2 separate regions of the Homo sapiens genome follow, and region 2 is linked to region 1. Evidence: fine-mapped expression QTL. A gene starts in region 1. The other region holds a variant in brackets. All regions are shown on one strand. Distances are between the middles of the regions. Region 1 holds the start of TRPM3 (transient receptor potential cation channel subfamily M member 3). Region 2 overlaps TRPM3 (transient receptor potential cation channel subfamily M member 3).

Region 1 (8,758 bases):
GACAAGGCCTTCTATTAGGTGGGTGAAAATGTAATCGTGGTTTTTGCCATTAAAAACCTTTTGCACCAACCTAATATGATTTAAACACTGTTGTTTACCCGTTTCCTTCTTCCATTTTAATATTCAATTCTTTCAGTCCAAATAGACAACGTTCTTCAATGCCCAAGTTGCATAGCAGGCTTCGGACACTAGATCTAAATCCAGTCAAGACCCAAACCCTTCATTTTAAAGAAGACATCAAGTTACAGAAAGATTAAGTAATTTGCCCAAGGTCACACAGCTGGTTAGGAACACAGTGGAATTAGGACCCAGTGTCCAGGCTGACTTTTCCAGAATATAATTTCTTTATTCTATTTCTGACATTGCTTAAAGTGAGCAAACTCATATGATTTCTCAATATAAAAATTTGAAAGTCTTAAAAATGATACTAATCATTTGGTCTTCATTAACACACTGACTTAAATATCTTTCCAAAATCTGTCACAAATACAGTGTCCCCTTCTCCCAATGCAACCCATTTTTCAGAAGCCTTCCCTTCAGTAAGTTCGCCAAGACTTCAATACACAGAAAGCTCTCTGCCCTAAAAATAATCTTCGAATTCAACATGTTACCAAAATAAAATCTTCCAAATAAAACAATGGCAAAGATAGACCTGATAATGAATATGAAATATGCTAAGAACATTCTGTCACTGAAATAAACTTGACTTTTTTTGTGATTAATAGTAAGATGCAATCTTGAAACACATAAGAATAAAGCAAACGACAACAGAAGAGAAATGATGTAGAAAGGGTCCCATTTGAAATTTACCCATTTGAAAACAGGCTCTGTCTTTTGGCTATCATCATTGTGTGCCTGTCCAGAAATTCATTTCCAAGTTTTATTTCCAAATGCAACCCCAAATTCAAAATGTGAGTGTGTTGGCATGTTCAAAAATTGCTCTGAGATGGACAAAACAACAAATGAGATGCTTTCAGGAGGAATAATAAGTACATTCCAACACTCATTGGGTTTAATTCATACTTCAGATATCGGCCTTCCCCTTCTAATTCTTTTGTATCCTGTTTCTATTAGGAAATGGAAAATAAGGAAATAGGATTATGAAGCCATTTCTAAATATTAACGTGATACCAAAGGAAGTTAGCAAAGATACACACATTTTCAAGGAAAAGGATAGAAAGGGAAATTGGCTTGAGTCCAGTCTGTCAGAAATGGTGACTGATCAGAGTTTAGCTAAATCTAATCAAGCCATCAGGACCTACACTGCATTTACTGACAGGTAGGGGCACTGAGAGAGGGCAGGTCATATTAGAACAATGCTTGGAAGAGGAATAAGCACTACCTGTTGAATAGGAGAATTGGCTTTGTTACCTTAAGATTTCAATAATCTACTGGATTCCTAGAGAATCCATTCATCAAATTAACATAGTGGTGGTAGTATGGAGGGAGGTGGAACAAGAGAGAGAAGGGGGAGGAAGGGAGGGAGGAGAAAGAAAGGAAAGGACATAAGAAATACTGTTATTAAATATTTCATTTCTAGATTAAGCCAGGAAGAGCATTTACCAAAACATGCAAATTATTATTCATGAACTTACATTTTACTCAAAAGATAAAATGGCAAGAATACATAGGAACTAGCAAAGCAAACACAGGAATCCATAGGAGAAACATACAACAATCCATAGGAAAAAAATACATAGCATTCACAGCCAGAGAGTGGACAATACAATTGCTCATATACCAAAGCAGCTTTGCTTTCTTTCTAAGTATTGCTGAAAGAACTTGGTATGACTTTATTTTTTTAAGAGTTTGAAATGTGCTCAATATCTGAAGTCTCAGAAGATAGCTATGATCTTTCAAAAATACAGATGTCATTTGGGAAAAAAGTTCTCCAGTAAGGTTCCATCCTGTCTTTTAGATATTGAAAAAATGGGAAGGACACACAGTAATGCACTTTATTCAATAAATTATTACAAAGCATCACTTTAATAAAGGATGGTAAGATTGAGCTGTATGCCAATGAAAGTATGGCTGTAGCATTAACAATGTCTCCTGAAAGTATGGACAGCACTTTCAGTTAAAAAAGATGACAGAACTCACTCTCCTAAAAAGACAGAGCTTCTTCTAAAAGAAGTACCTCAGGTAGGTACTTCTCTGCTGGTTTTGTGACTAGTAAATGAATAACATTCTCCATTTAAAAAAAAACTAGCATATTAATTAATCATATATGGAGAGTGATAGTCACCTATCTGTCAAGAAGAGTTAAAAAGCATTATTTTGGGTTAAAGCTGATACATGACTTTAACTGAAAAAATGTTTCTCATTGCACTTCGAATTACTGGAGTTGAATTCTTTCAGGGAGACTTAGATATGCCCATTCTTTGCCCCTGACTCTTGATTCACTAGTGATTCTGGAGAAAATGTACACCAATTTGTTAATTCTCTGGCCTCATTCTTTTTCTTGCCCTATCACACATGTTGTTACAACACAGCAAAAACACACATATCCAAGGAAAAGTCTCTTCTACTACCCATACCCAAACCTGCCTTTCCTCCTAAATAGTCCCTAGGGAAGCAAGCCATCGCCATGACAACCATATGATGGGAGTTTGAACAGCACTTGGGGCAGCCTTTGTTGAAAGTTAATACCAGTTGGTGTTTAACAAGAAAAGGAAAACTCAGGCAAGGGGTAATACTCTGTTGTGAGGCACCACTTAGCTGTATGGAACTAACTGTCCCCATCAAATCTTACCTAACCAGAACACATCCTCAGAACAAAATTCTCCAAGTGTAACGTATTCAGGGCTAATTCATTAATTCTCCATTGTAGCCCACTGGACTCAATGCTCTGTGGTCACTAAATCAAAAGAGCATACATACTCAGGAAAAGAGAATTAAGAACTTTGCCTTTTTTAACTTCGAATGGATATAGAACATCAGAGATATTTATTTTTCCCTATTAAGTATTACCACCTTCTATTTACTGGGCAAAAATGCTTGTTTCCTGCACCTTTAAATCTAATTTGTGTTTTCCCCCCTACAAGAAAGATCATGAAGGTGGATTAGTACAGAGTTGTATGGACTTTTTCAGTATCTTTAATGCATTTGCTTCTGGAAAGAGAAGCGCTGCAGACACACGGTGGCAATTCCTGCTCAGGTGTAGTGCCATTCTTTTGTGTGACTCACAGCTAGAGAGAGAGCTGACATTCAATATATGTTTAACAATACTTTCCCACTACTGATTCCACTCAGGAGACTCACATTTTTATGCCTTTTCTAAAAACAAGGACACAAAAAAAGTCACTGTCTGAGGAGGCTCATTCTTTGTTCATCTTCACCTGACTGGCCACCTAACTACACAAAGCTTTTAAACTAATGAGGAGAATCCTTTGTTCTCTCTGGTTCCATTTAAAGGGAAAGTGGGTCGAAGGGCTTCCCCAGGGAGAGAGAAAGAAAAGCCCAGGAGCCAAACACAAGGGAGTAAGAGATTTCACTCCCACTACTATTCCCACCCTCCCAAAGAAGTTAATTAATTCTGTTTTAGGAATGGTTAAAAGGGGTGGGGGAGCACCAGGTAGCCCATTCTCTGAGACCAAAATCTCCTTCTCGAGTGTGGTTCGCACCAGCCTCTTGTCTCTGACACCACGGGGTGTGGGTGGGGGGCGTGGGGGGAGGGCAGGAGTACTGAGAACCTCTCTCCAGCCACGGACCACAGAGCCAGTACTGCATGCATTTAGGCTCCCCCAAAGGTGCGTCCCAGCCCAAGTCCCCAAGTTGGGTATTTAAATCTAAAAAGCACAATTAGCGCCATTCAAAGCTGCAAGTTACAGTACCTTCAGAAGTCTGACAGATGGAAGAAAGGCTGCGTGGCACAGCTTCCGGATGGTCCAGTTTAGGGGTCGAGGAGCATCAGCCTGATTCATGACCCCTTCCAAATTCCACCAGGAAAACAAGAAACTGAAAACCTGAGCAATGCCTAGAAAATAAACGGTCCCCCACGGCTCTGGCATCCCATGGTCATCTCCACACCTGCAAATTCCATTAGGGCAGAGGCTTCCTGGAACTTGGAAGACTAGTCAAGTAGCCTTGCCTGAGCCCCTGAACCTTCTTAAAACAGCCACCTCCCCTCTCTCTGCAGCCGTGCTCATGCATACCAAATGTGGCTGAATGGAGGCACACTGCCTGCTGCTTCGGGGAGGGGATGCACGATTTTGAAGAAGAGGGACAGCCTGCACAAAACAGCCTGTGGTCGGAGTCAAAGCAGCCTGCTCCAGAATGCGCGCTCCCTCTCCCGCTCTCCTCCCAGTAAACGCAGGTCAGGCGTTGGGGGGGAACCGGGGCCATTGCTTTGCTAGCTTGGTTTGGGGGGGAGCCAGGAGGATCGCAAAAGGGAACAAAAATGAAGCCAGAACGGGAAACTTGCACTTTCTTGCACAAAGCATCTTTGAGGGACTGAGAACTGGTACGGGGGGAGGGGTGAGGACACAGGGAGAGAAGGGGTGCCTCCGAATGATGAGATAAATGCTTCCCTTTTGATTTATGTGACATAATAAAGTGAGGCTATCATCAAATACATCTATAGTAAAAGAGATCTGTGTCGTGTTCTGAGGTTTTTATTAACCGTGATTGACAGTCTTCATCCTGATAATCGGTTGCATAGATGACAGACACTGAGACAGAAGCAAACTCAAACACACTGGGTTGTTCCTTTCATACAAAGCAGTTTAAACTCATGGGCATTTGGCTCACCTTTTAGAGATGGCAGTTTTTAAATGGGGGTTATCTCCTGGAAAGCCACTTGATACCGCTTCTCTGCAACACAAGTTTAACCCATAAAGTGCCACATGGGATGCTGTCTATAAAGAATGGATTTTCCTCAAGTGGGGTGTCCACCCCCATCATTTTCTAAGGAGGCTGTATGAAATAGTTGCTGAGTTGGAATGTATAGTCTTTAGGACTCCTGTGGTGAGAGAGAGAATTAAAGGACAGTTTTTCAATTTGAAGGTAGAAATTGGATAATTTCACATAGTAAGTTGGGACGGTGAGATGAGAAGGGAGTTCCTGACACAACCCCCCTTCGGCTCCCATGTACCCCCAGGCATCGGACCTCAGTGGGAGCAGTTGACCTGACAACTCCTATGGGGAGAATCCCCACATCCTTGGAGCATCGCCATCTTATTTATTTTTTCCTCTGTGACCATGCTGATTTTCCATTTCTAATTAACTTGAAGAGATTGGTAAATCCCAGCTCCATGACTATTATGCAGTCAGAGCTGAACTGGGAGTGGTGCAAGCAGATGTGATACACTGCTGTAATTCAGAACCGGGACAACACAGGCCCACCCCAGCATGAAATCAATACCTGACACACTGCGCTACAACACCATTTCACTCACAATGGTCTTGTGTCAAAAATTTAAGAAAGATATTGCAGAAAACTAGTCCACGGGTGGAAGGCAGACCATTGACCTACCTCGTATAGTAAAATTTATGTCTCTGATTATCTACCAAACAATATCACTTTAATAGATCTCATACACAGCTGATTCATTTTCTGTTACTATTCTATTTCCACAAAGGATTGAAGGCAGTATTAAAATAATAACGGCTCACATGTATCACCTAGCACAATGCATTGCATAGGTTTATGCCCATGTCAACCTTATGGAGTAGGTGTTATGGTCATTTTCTTATCTCACAGATTAAGCAAGTGAGGTCCAGAGAAATTAGTAACAAGTCTAACATACTAGTATAACTGGAATCTGGATTGAAACCAGTCTACTAGGCTGTAAAGACAAGCTTTCTCTTGTCTCCTATTTCTTTCAAAAGGGACTTCAGGAATAAAACCACTGCCTCTGTTTTTTGGTAATTTAATCTTACATAAGAGTTAAAGACTTTAAAGAAGAAACGCTCAGCATTTCTTTCAGATTATTACTTTGGTCTGATGTTGATGTATTAGTTAACAGCATGAATTCTGGAATCAAGCTGCATGGTTCAAATTCCAATTTTGAAGCTAGTCTTGGGAGATTTACGTACCTTCTTTGTGTCTTGGAGTCCTTATCCGTACAATGGAGATTAAAATAAACCCTTATGCCTATGGTTGTTGTGAGGACTAAATAAGCTAATATTGGCAAAGCACTTAGAACAGTGCCTGGCATATACTAAATACCTGTACCATGATCCATCTTCTGGGTAGCATGTGCTGATTCTGAGCTGGAAGCCCACTGACAATTTTCATTAAGCATGCATACATATGGTAGTAGGTAATGAAGTCAAGCAAGACAAATTAAAACTGAATGCTTCTTGTGAGTTACTATGAGTTTAATAAATGGGGTAAAGAGGAAGGTGGGAGACTGCAAGGGCAGCGTGGTTTTCCTCATGCAGTGTGGTATTCATCCAGTTGCGAGATGCTGCCTTTAGTGGGGAAGGCTCCAGCCTTTCTAAGCTTTTAAATGAACGCCCTTAAGTGGTTCTGTTGAGGTGGTGAGATCTCTGCTCCATGAAAATGCTGAAAAACTGCAATTGCCTACCCCCTGCCCTGCAGTATTTCAAAATGCTAAGGACCCCACAAAAATGACAGCATCATTCTGAAAACACATGGCCTTTGATCCTATCCCCTTTAATTTTACTGAATAACTTTGGTCAAAGAGAACTGTTAGAAACTATGCAGAGTGAGGAAGTAGGAGGATTCACAGCCCTCTCTAATGGCAATTAGAGGAGAAAAGCACAAAACCTTCAGGGAATTGATTTGGAGATTACACTGCAAAAGAGGTAAAAGATCAAAGAAGGATGACAGTGCATGAGAGGCAGTTTTTCTTCCATCACTGGGGACGCTTTGTGCCAGAATTGTTTGCTATCAAAACATCTAAAGAAGGGTTTTCAAGACCCTTCTCTCTACTTTCAAGAAATTATATTTTCACATAGAAGATGCCTTCCCCAGTTTTAGAGAGAGGTCTAATGAGAAAAAAAAAAAAAAGCAGAGAGGAGCAAGCCCAGCCCCAGATATTAGCATCTCACAAATTCAAAGTGCTTACTTATAAATCTTATGAATGTAGATGTCTACATATCTGCAGAACAAATTCTAGCAGGCTTAAAACTCTGAAATAATCATACTAGCTTTCAGTATCCTAAAAAATAGCAAGCAGGGCATATCAGATTTCTGTATTCCAAAGCCTGCCTTTGAGCCAACTCTAATTCTCTCCCGTGCTACAGAAAAGCCCACTTTCCACTGATTATCTTCCCTTTTTATTTTCTGTGTAAATGATACGAAACCAAAGAATCATGATGAAATTTGAGCTCATTCTCAATACTGACAAGGCGGCCATTGTATAGCCCTTCTGAATTCTTTCTTTTGAAGACCACGTTCCTTCTCTTCAAAAGTCATAGCACCCTCAATATAGTATTGTACCACTTTGCACCCTGTCTTCTTTATATCTTTTGGATGTAAAAGGAGCTGACCCATGAAAACCTAAGAAAACAAAAAGGAAATGACACAGTGACCAGGTAGTACAGAGAACTCAAAAGCCTCCCTCTGAAATGTGTTTTCTGCAAACAACACTAAAATAACAGTGTTGCAATGTAATTTTTCAGAGTTTATTATTACAACATTAAAATTCATAGGTATCTGGACATCAATTGTACATATATTTTCAGGCTCTAATATATGGATGTAGTGCACCTAGTGCAGAAGGATGATATTTAAGCAACCAGGGGAAAAACCAGGAACAAGCCCAGTGGTGAGCCTTTGTAGACACTTTCGTTTGCTTCAGTGTTTTGTAGTCTTAATATTAACGTCTTGCTTGCTTAATGATTGGCCTCTTTTATTAATTTTGTTGTGCTTTGAATTTTCTTTTTTAAATATTTTATTTTACTTTAAGTTCCAGTATACACGTGCAGGATGTGCAGGTTTGTTACACAGGTAAATGTGTGCCATGGTGGTTTTCTGCACTGTCAGCCCATCACCTAGGTATTAAGCCCCACATGCATTAGCTATTTATCCTAATGCTCTCCTCCTGCAACAGGCCCCCGTATGTGTTGTTACCCTCCCTGTGTCCATGTGTTCTCATTGTTTAGCTCCCACTTATAAATGGGAACATAACGGTGTTTGGTTCTCTGTTCCTGTGTCAGTTCGCTGAGGATAATGGTTTCCAGCTCCATCCATGTCACTGCAAAGGACATAATCTCATTCTTTTTATGGCTGCATAGTATTCCATGGTGTATATGTAGCACATTTTCTTTATCTAGTCCATCATTGATGTGCATTTGGGTTGATTCCATGTCTTTGCTATTGTGAGTAGTGCTGCAATGAACATAGGTGTACATTATCTTTAAAATAGAATGATTTATATTTTGGGGGATACATACCACTAATGGGATTGTGGTAGATTAAATACTTAAATGTAAAACCCAAAACTATAACAACCCTAGAAGATAATCTAGACAATACCATTTAGGACATAGGCACAGGCTAAGATTTCATGACGAACATGTCAAAAGCAATTGCAACAAAAGCAAAAATTGACAAACGGGATCTAATTAAACTAAAGAGCTTTTGCACAGCAAAAGAAACTATCATCAGAGTGAACAGACAACCTACAGAATGGGAGAAAATTTTTGCAATCTATCCATCTGACAGAGGTCTAATATCCAGAATCTACAAGGAACTTAAGCAAATTTATAAGAAAAAAGCAAACAACCCCATTAGAAAGGGGGCAAAGGACATGAACGGACACTTCTCAAAGGAAGACATTTATGCAGC
Region 2 (8,758 bases), 230 kb before region 1:
TCAGTGCCTTGTGCCTTTACTTTATATTGTACAACAAATGCACCTGAACCTTCTAATCTTAACCCCGGGTCTACAGTGCTTACTTCTACCACCTTTGCTGCCCTGAACTCAGAAAAAAGAGATAGGGTCAAGGGTTTGAAGGTGAAGTAAGGACTGCTGAGGAAGAAATATTACTGGGGATGGCGATCCTCTGTGAGTGTCTCTTTTTGTTTATAATGAGTCAACACTTTTTTTTCTTTTTTTCTTTTTTTTTGAGATGGAATTTCGCTCTTGTCGCCCAGGCTGGAGTGTAATGGCACAATCTCAGCTCACTGCAACCTCCACCTCCCAGGTTCAAGTGATTCCCCTGCCTCAGCCTCCTGTGTAGCTGGGATTATAGGCCTGCACCACCATACCTGGCTAATTTTTGTATATTTAGTAGAAACGGGGTTTCACCATGTTGGCCAAGCCAGTTTCGAACTCCTGACCTCAGGTGATCCACCTGCCTTGGCCACCCAAAGCGCTAGGATTACAGGTGTGAACCACCGTGCCCGGAGAGTCAACACTTATAACTGACAAATATAACTGCAATTGACAGGAAATAAAATCAAAACATATGATGAGTCAAAAGGAAGGACATTCTTCTACATTAAAATCTGTAATAGCATCTGCCTAGAGTTTACCAATATAAACAACCTAACTCCTACATCACTTGGATCTCTGCACACAGGTTACCTGTGGCTAGTGGATTGGGCTACTGCTTAGAAAGAAAGAGGGCTAAGGATGTGAGTTCCAGCCATCTAGTTTAGGTTGTTTCAGGTTTTATTAAGCTCAAATTGTGTCCTGTCAACATGTAGTCTCCTTCCTAACTCCAATGTTGAAGTCACAGAAAGAAAATTAAATAATATTTACTGAAGTTCTGGATATATCTTCAGTGCTAATTGTTCACTGACAAAATGATTCCTCACTATGTCATTACTCATCTAAAGTGTTAATCAAACTTAGAAATAATATACAGAATAGAAATCTAAAAATAATTTCTCCATTTTAAGAGCTTATTGGAAAGAACATGTGATACAAATTTAATAAGTAAAATTTTATGCTATGATATTTATGCCAGCATGATGCCTTTTTATGTAGTACTTCAGGAGAGTTTTCCTGAATATCTGGTATGATAAGAAGAGGCTTCTGGCAGGCAACCATATGTTTCTTATTCCAGTAGTTATGATTCTTCTTATTTATGTTACAGTTGAAGGAATGAGGCAGCCCATACAAATCTATTTTCTTAGTATCTGGGTATCTTGTGGGTTTCAACATCTGTTTGTCAATTACCATCTCATTTCTTTACCACCAGAGAATGGTTTGCCCCTTTACCTCTATGTACATAAATACACACTCTCATAAGCACAAAGACTTTAATTTGGGCAGAAGCAGAGATACAGTCTATAAAGTACTATGTATCTTTCCCATAACCATCATATGATGAAAAATAATGTCAACAACTGTGCAACTGCAGTATGACAAGTGTGAATGCCCTAATTGGTCAACTGGACCAGAATGATGAGTTGTTGTTTTTATTTTAAACCAATGTCACTTCTAATCTATTACAATGGTAATGAACAGTCAAGCAGCCTATTTCCCACGGATATCTTCAAAGCTCTACAGATTGCCATTTGAACCATTCTTTAATTGCCTCTGGCACAGATTGTAGCATGCTCCATAGAACCAAGAAGGCGTATTAACTAGATTTGGCTATCCCCAAGTCACTATAATGATGAGGCTTTATATGACTAAAGGAGGTTTTAGCTTCAGTCTTTACTATGAACCATTATAACCACCCAGCACATAGTAGGTACCTGAAAAAAGTGAATTTTTATGGCAATATAGTCACATTTTAATTTCTTGTTGGATTAATGGGAGTTAGGAGTATTTTTTGCTCTTGCTTTTATTTTGGGGTGTGTGTGTGTGTGTGTGTGTGTGTGTGTGTGTGTGTGTTCCAATCCTAGAAGTAAAATTTTCTGGATAATTAAGATAAAGTTAGAAATTACCAGATATGTATTCTCCAAGCCTTTTCTCAGAAAAGTTTACTATTTTTTATTAGAAGGGTTTTACTCTTGAATTTAGTTTGCCAGGTACAGGTTTTGTTTTAAACTTTTGCCTATTGTCTTACATCCATTGTTAATGCATGTTGCATACCATTTGTAAAAATTTCAGATTGAAAGAATGGTTGTATCATATCCTCTTCCTGAGCCAGTGATAGTTCACTAGATCTGCCTGTCTACTTTGGCTCAGCAGAGGTGCCTACTTGACTCCTGGGCCTAGGATGAGAAGAGGAAGGAGATGACATGTGGTTCCCTTCAAGCCGACTTTTGCCTAAGTTAAGGGGTGGTCATGTTTTTAGAATGGGAAGGAGGCTGATTCAACAACATTTCTGATCAAACCTGGAAGATTAGACATATGCATTTATCTCGATTTCTCTCAAGTATTCTTCTAAAATGAGAGGAAAGTTGTAACAACAAAAAGGCATGACCTACAAGGACACCAGTATGGAGAAGGAAGTGGGAATACATAACAGATGTCAACAAAATTTTTGGAAATTTCAACATGAATGGATGGGTAGTAATTAACATTGCCAACTAGAGAATGTTCAAAGCTCGGGAACTGGAAGGGGTGGCACAGCCAGCAAGAAACAACCTGATTCACCCCACTGAAACTCAGATAGGCCTAGGAATAAAGGCACCAGGTATTTTTAAAGGCTAGGAGATGGGTGGAATAGCAAGGTCAAGCCCATATGGGACAAATGGTTGAAAGTCTTTAAAAGAACCAGCCAAACTTCTGCCTCCTCTCCACATAGCCAGGAAACTGCTGCTCTCCCACCAAGGGGAAGACCAGAAGTTGATTCTTTTGAGAAGTTGAACCTTAGACTAGATGTACGGCTGAAAGTATGAGGCACCAGGATGAAAGCAAAAATATGAGTGAAAGTTTACACATTGATGGGCGAGGTCCCCGCCAACCCCACCTGTTTTCTTACCTCTGTCGGCCACTAGACCATGGTCAGTTTGGCTCTATGTCCTCCTCCAACCCCCTGACCATCTGTACCCCACCCAACACACACCTTCCAGCAGGATAGTGGTGGACTTTTCTTTGGAAATATTGAAGAGCACCAAACAGACCTCATGATCTTGACTTTCAGGAATCTCCTAAGAAAATACTGGGTATCCATAGAAAAGACCACTGGTCAATAAATCCCACCTAAGGACAAAGAATTCCCAATCTGCATTTTAATGCCTTACTCTGAGGTATAAGAGCAAGCTTATACTTAGGTTTAAGTAATAGAAAAGGCTTAAGTAATAGCCAAGGGTCATCAGGAATTAAGGAAAGCCTCTACCATGAAAGACAGGAACCATTAAAATGAAACAATAAAGGAAACAGTACAGAAAAGTATAGTAAAAAGTGTATATATGGCATATACTTAGTATATACAGTATATATAGTAAACAACATAAAATTAGTATATATGTAGTATATATGCTATATACTATATATAACATACTATAAAATATAAATATTTATAGCATATTATATATTTATATTTATATATTCTATATAGCATATATAAATATATACACACTATACATTAGTATATATAATATACAAATATAGTGTACTATATACTATATAGTATATATATAGTCAATAGTACAAAATATATACAATAATATAATCAGTAGCCTCAGAGAACTAAAGAAGACCCAAGCATGGAAGAAGAGAGACTATAACACAGGACATTTTTAAAACAAGAAGAGAGTGTTAGAAAGTTAAGAGATATAACAAGAAAAACAAAAACCTAAATAGAAGATAAAGGTGAGGAAGCAAACGTGAGGCTATCTCTTACAAAACAGAACAAAGAGAAAACAGGAGCAAAAAATATATAAGTTAGAGACTCAGTAATAAAGGTTTCCAGCAAAAGAGAACAGAGAACACCAAAAGAGAAAATTATCAAAAAAATTGATATAAGAAAAACTTCCAGAATTGCAGAACATAAATTTCCAAATTGAAGGGGTCACTGTGAGTGGCCAGTGGAGTAGATGAAGATAGACCTCCACCAAAGAATAACGCTGTAGAATTTTTAAAGACCAAGACAAAGATAAGATTCTACAGGCTTCCAGACAGAAGAAAACATATTTCGTAAATAAGATCAAGATTCAAGGAAATCTAGAATGCAATGGGGATATCTTGAAATTATGAGGAAAAGATTTTTAATCAAGGGTGAGAATAAAATAAATAAATGTTAGTTCCTAAAATAGTTCAAAATTTAACTCCACATGCTGCAACATTTCATGGGATGCTATTGGAAAATATGCTCCGTAAACAGGAAAAAACATGGTATCTAAAAACAGGGAACCAAGCACAGGACAGAGGCAGAGGGAATTCATAAAAGGATAGAAAAGCAAAGTGCCAGATGATAAGACAGCTCTGCAGCAGAGCTGGGAACAGCCACTCAAGGCTGGAGTGTATGCATGAAAACAACAACAAACACAAACACAACTAACCTAAAGAATTGTTCAGCAATGGGACACAGGAAGGGGAACATCACACTCCGGGGCCTGTCGTGGGGTGGGGAGAGGGGGGAGGGATAACATCAGGAGATATACCTAATGTCAATGACGAGTTAATGGGTGCAGCACACCAACATGGTACATGTATACATATGTAACAAACCTGCACGTTGTGCACATGTACCCTAGAACTTAAAGTATAATAAAAAATTAGAATTGTTCAGAAAAGGAGATTGAATAATTTTATATACAGTGAAGAAAATTTGCATAGTCATAGAAAATAAAAACACTGAATACTGAAAAATTGAAAAAAATAATTGTTAACTGTATGGAGAGTGAGGGAAAAGATGAAGTATATGCTGGGAAAAGGGAATAAAATAGCTAAATCCCATTTTTCAAAGTAAAAATATCAAACATGCAAAATGAAAAAAGCAGAATTATAAGCATGCTGCTTATAAACATAGAGTTAAATGCCAGAAAAAGATGCTTTTAGAGCTGAAAGCAGATGTGAAAGCAGATATGTGGGGTGAGAAGTGTCAGGCAAGGGACCCTGTTTTTTGTGTGAAAGTCCTCGTAGCACTATTTGACTTTTTAAGCTCTATCATAAAACTATGTAATAAAAATGAACAGCAATAGCAAAATTTGGAAAAACAAAAACTTAAATGGAAGTACTGGAAGATAAAGGTTTCAAATGAATGAAATTGTATCCTTAGTTATCTCTCCAGCTCCTCTTGGGTTGTTGTATAAAATGAACATGTATTATGTACCATGAGCCACTGTTAGGAGGTTTCTTATGCATTATCTGATTTAATCCTAATGACAACTCTGTAAATTGTCATTTTTGTCCCCACATCCCAGATAAGAAAACTGAGGCTCATTGTTCTGAAGATTTGCTGAAGACCTCAGGGCTGGCAAAGTCAGACCCAAACTTAAGCCTTTCTCACCTTGTGCCTTAGGCGCTTACCATATCCCAGAGTTTCATTTTATTATATAAGAAAGTTTA[C/T]TTCAAAACTTACGGACTACCAAGCTTCTCCCAGCCTACAGATCCACAGCAGGGTGAATACCTGGATAATAACTAGAATTCCGTGGTTGGAGCAGGAGGGATTTACGAGGAAAAAAAGGGAAAAAGGAAAGAGATACTGAGAGGACTTTTAATTCTCAGAATGAATCGCCCATGTTATTTTAACATTTTGTGCCTTAACGTTTTGGAAGACTATATAGAGAAATTAATTATTCATGGAGTAAGATAATTTACTTCTTTTAGCCACAAGTGAATTATACAGTACCAAAAGTGAAATGAGTTAATATGTAATATCATTCAGAAAAAGAGGCCTTTATGAGAGTCTGAACATAAAAAAAGGCATCTGTAAATTCGTAGAAATACCTAGAAATAGGGTGATTACTCTAGATCAGCACTTCTTTGCCTTTAAATAAATGAAGTCAGATCCTGAATTTTGAGATTACAAACAATATCAAAATTATTTTCACAGCTGTGCAACATTTATTATCTTGAAAGAATAATGTGGTTTAACATAATTTAATTTTAATTATTTTAATATTTTATACTTTTGGAGAGAAAAAAGTCTCAAGTCAATACATTGCTACTTCTTTAGGTTCAAGTTTCAAATTTACCCGTTTGACCTCAAAAAAAAAAAAAAAAACTAGCCAATCTGCAAGCATTTATGAGAATCTATCACATTCATGGATGGTTAAGACCAGTTCTAAATAAATATATTTCTGCATGTAGCTCAAGAGTTTTCAATTAAAGAGGCTATTCTAATTCTCAATCAATACTTTAATGTATGTGGTTAAAATGTAAGTGGTTAAAATCAGTAATTATTATTACAACCATAGTATGTGGTGAAATAGAAAATCAGTTGAACAACAAAATAATATTACAGGTTTCTTGTTTTGATTGTTACCTTCACATATCTAGGAAGGTCACTTAATTTCTACATGACCGGCTATATCCACAAATAAAATTGAGAAAATACCATCTACTCTACTTTACAAGGTTGTTAATATGCTGCAACATGAGATAGCATTTTAAGCAAGCACAAAGCACTATCTATCTACAATATATTCTGAAAAAGAGGCAATGTTGATGATATATTTCCCCAAAGCAGAGTCTCCTGTGCTGGACTGCTATTATTAATATTATATGTAGGGGAAGACATTTTCTGCGACACCAATAATGCTTTTTCTAATGAAACTATTCCCCACAGGTCCTCCAGATTGGAAGGGCTGCATAACCATGCTAGGGAGGTTTGCTGGGTGAAATCACATGGACCATGCCAGGGGCTTGGGTTAGAGAACTGCCTTTGTCATAAGAAAACTTGGGTAATTCACTTAAATGCTCTTAGCCTTAGTTTTCTTGTGCATAGAAAGGAAGCCCTAAGATGCTTTATAGGGCTCTCATTAGGTTCAAGTGAATAAAGAATATGAATGGCTAGAGTGTAAGAAGCTCTTTATAAATGATAAAACACTATATAAATATGTTATGATGATGCTACTACTAATAGAAATATCAGTATAACATAAATATCCAATTGTCCCATGGTGACTACGAATGGTTTATGGAATACTACATATATTTCTAGTAGTAATTTTGATGACTTTGGGATTGAAAGTGTACCTCCTAGATCTGGAAAAATTAGGGCCCTATACTCCTATCTACTGAAAAGGGAAAACTGTAATTATGGAACCACATTACTGTGGAAGCAAAGCGCCCTCCTCCTGAAATCCAACACGTGGCGAGATTAAAGGACTAATGGTAATTAAACATTGACACAGAGTGAATAAGATTAATATTAGAAAAGGATTACATCAGAAAAGATTTACATCAAAGGATTCTTTCTCTTTTCTCCCATAGAAGGCCTAAGACACAAAAGAAGTCTTATGCAAAACATTCTAAGCCTCTCAGTTATTTTAAAAGAAGCTGAAAAAAATGATGAGGTAAGCACAAATTTCTTCTACTGGAAAATGCCAAAAGTTATAATATGCTTAAGGATTTACTCCACATATGGGAAATAGCAATATATTGGAGGACAAAATGGGTCACGGATGTCCAGGAACTTGGAAAAATGTTTGGAACATTGTTGGAGGAAAGCATATATAATAGAATGAAAAGGTGCCCATAAGCCATCCCACCAAATTTTAATACCATCACGTGCTCCTTGTTGAGCTACAAAGATGCAAGGATTTTGTTTGTTTGTTTGGTGTTAGATACAAATGCAGTGAATATGTGTCTATGAAATGAACATATAGAATAACATTATATGAACAAACAAAAAGGAATATCTTCAGTGGGGTTGCCCAGGACACTACCAGCTAGGAGCATAGTCAGGATTAGGACCTGGCAGAGGTCTGCTCTAGCCTATGAGGTCAGTGGTTGCCTGGGCCCAAGGGACCATCGGGCATTACTTGGGTTTTCTGGGACTGTACCACACTGGTTTGCTACATTCAGCATTTGTATCTCATGGATACAAATGCATTTCTTTAAATATCAAGATCCATGCTGTTGGTACAAAGGCCAGGGATATTTCTATTAAACACATGTTTCTTGAGCACCTACCATGTACCAGGCACTGCTTTAGGAACTTGGGAGTACAGTATTGACTAGGAGAGCATTGAACTTTAGGATAAAATACAAGATTAGTTGCAGTTGAGAATTTTCTAAGCAAAAGTGAATGCAAGATTTGGCTTCTCCAGGACTCAGATCTACATCTATTTGGGCTGTCATACAGAATTGCCATAATATTACCAAAATATATATAGCACTCAACAGTTTGCTACGTAAAGTTTAGTAGTATCATAACAACATCACTTAGTTATACAATATACCTTCTTGAGGATCTGTGTCTTCAAGAAGCTTACATTTTAGTGTCACGCTGATTCTAACAGGACCTATTGCGGTGCTGAAGCCCTACTGCTAAGATTGTGAATAGAAAATGGGAAAAAAGTTTTGCCGTCAGACAACTTTGGCTTGAATGCTGACTGTATTGAGTGCTAGTGCCATGGCTTGGGAAGATACCTTATCTTTTAAGAGCTTGTATTTCTTCATCAGCCCAAAGATGCTAATAGTATCTATCGTCATCAAATGTTATATTGTACATGAAGGCACTTTGCAAAATGCAAAGTGCTACATAAATGTTAGTGCTATTATGACGATTCTGTATGCCAGTCCAGATAGATATGGATCCAGGTTCTGAAAACAGGCA

The links. PIP is the estimated chance that this variant, and not a neighbour inherited with it, causes the effect.
Region 2: its variant is fine-mapped to the expression of TRPM3 in visceral fat (GTEx, PIP 0.97).

Annotation. Positions count from the first base shown.
Region 1 is chr9:71,117,345-71,126,102 of GRCh38, forward strand. TRPM3 (transient receptor potential cation channel subfamily M member 3) reads right to left here and starts at 4,277. Exons shown (of 26, transcript NM_001366145.2): 1 at 3,834-4,277. The coding sequence starts at 4,010. RefSeq lists an enhancer at 3,085-3,922.
Region 2 is chr9:70,886,429-70,895,186 of GRCh38, forward strand. All of the region lies in intron 1 of TRPM3 (transient receptor potential cation channel subfamily M member 3), which reads right to left. Among named protein-coding and RNA genes, the nearest start is that of MIR204, 81 kb to the left of the region's middle. The variant C/T (reference allele first, on the strand shown) is at 5,542.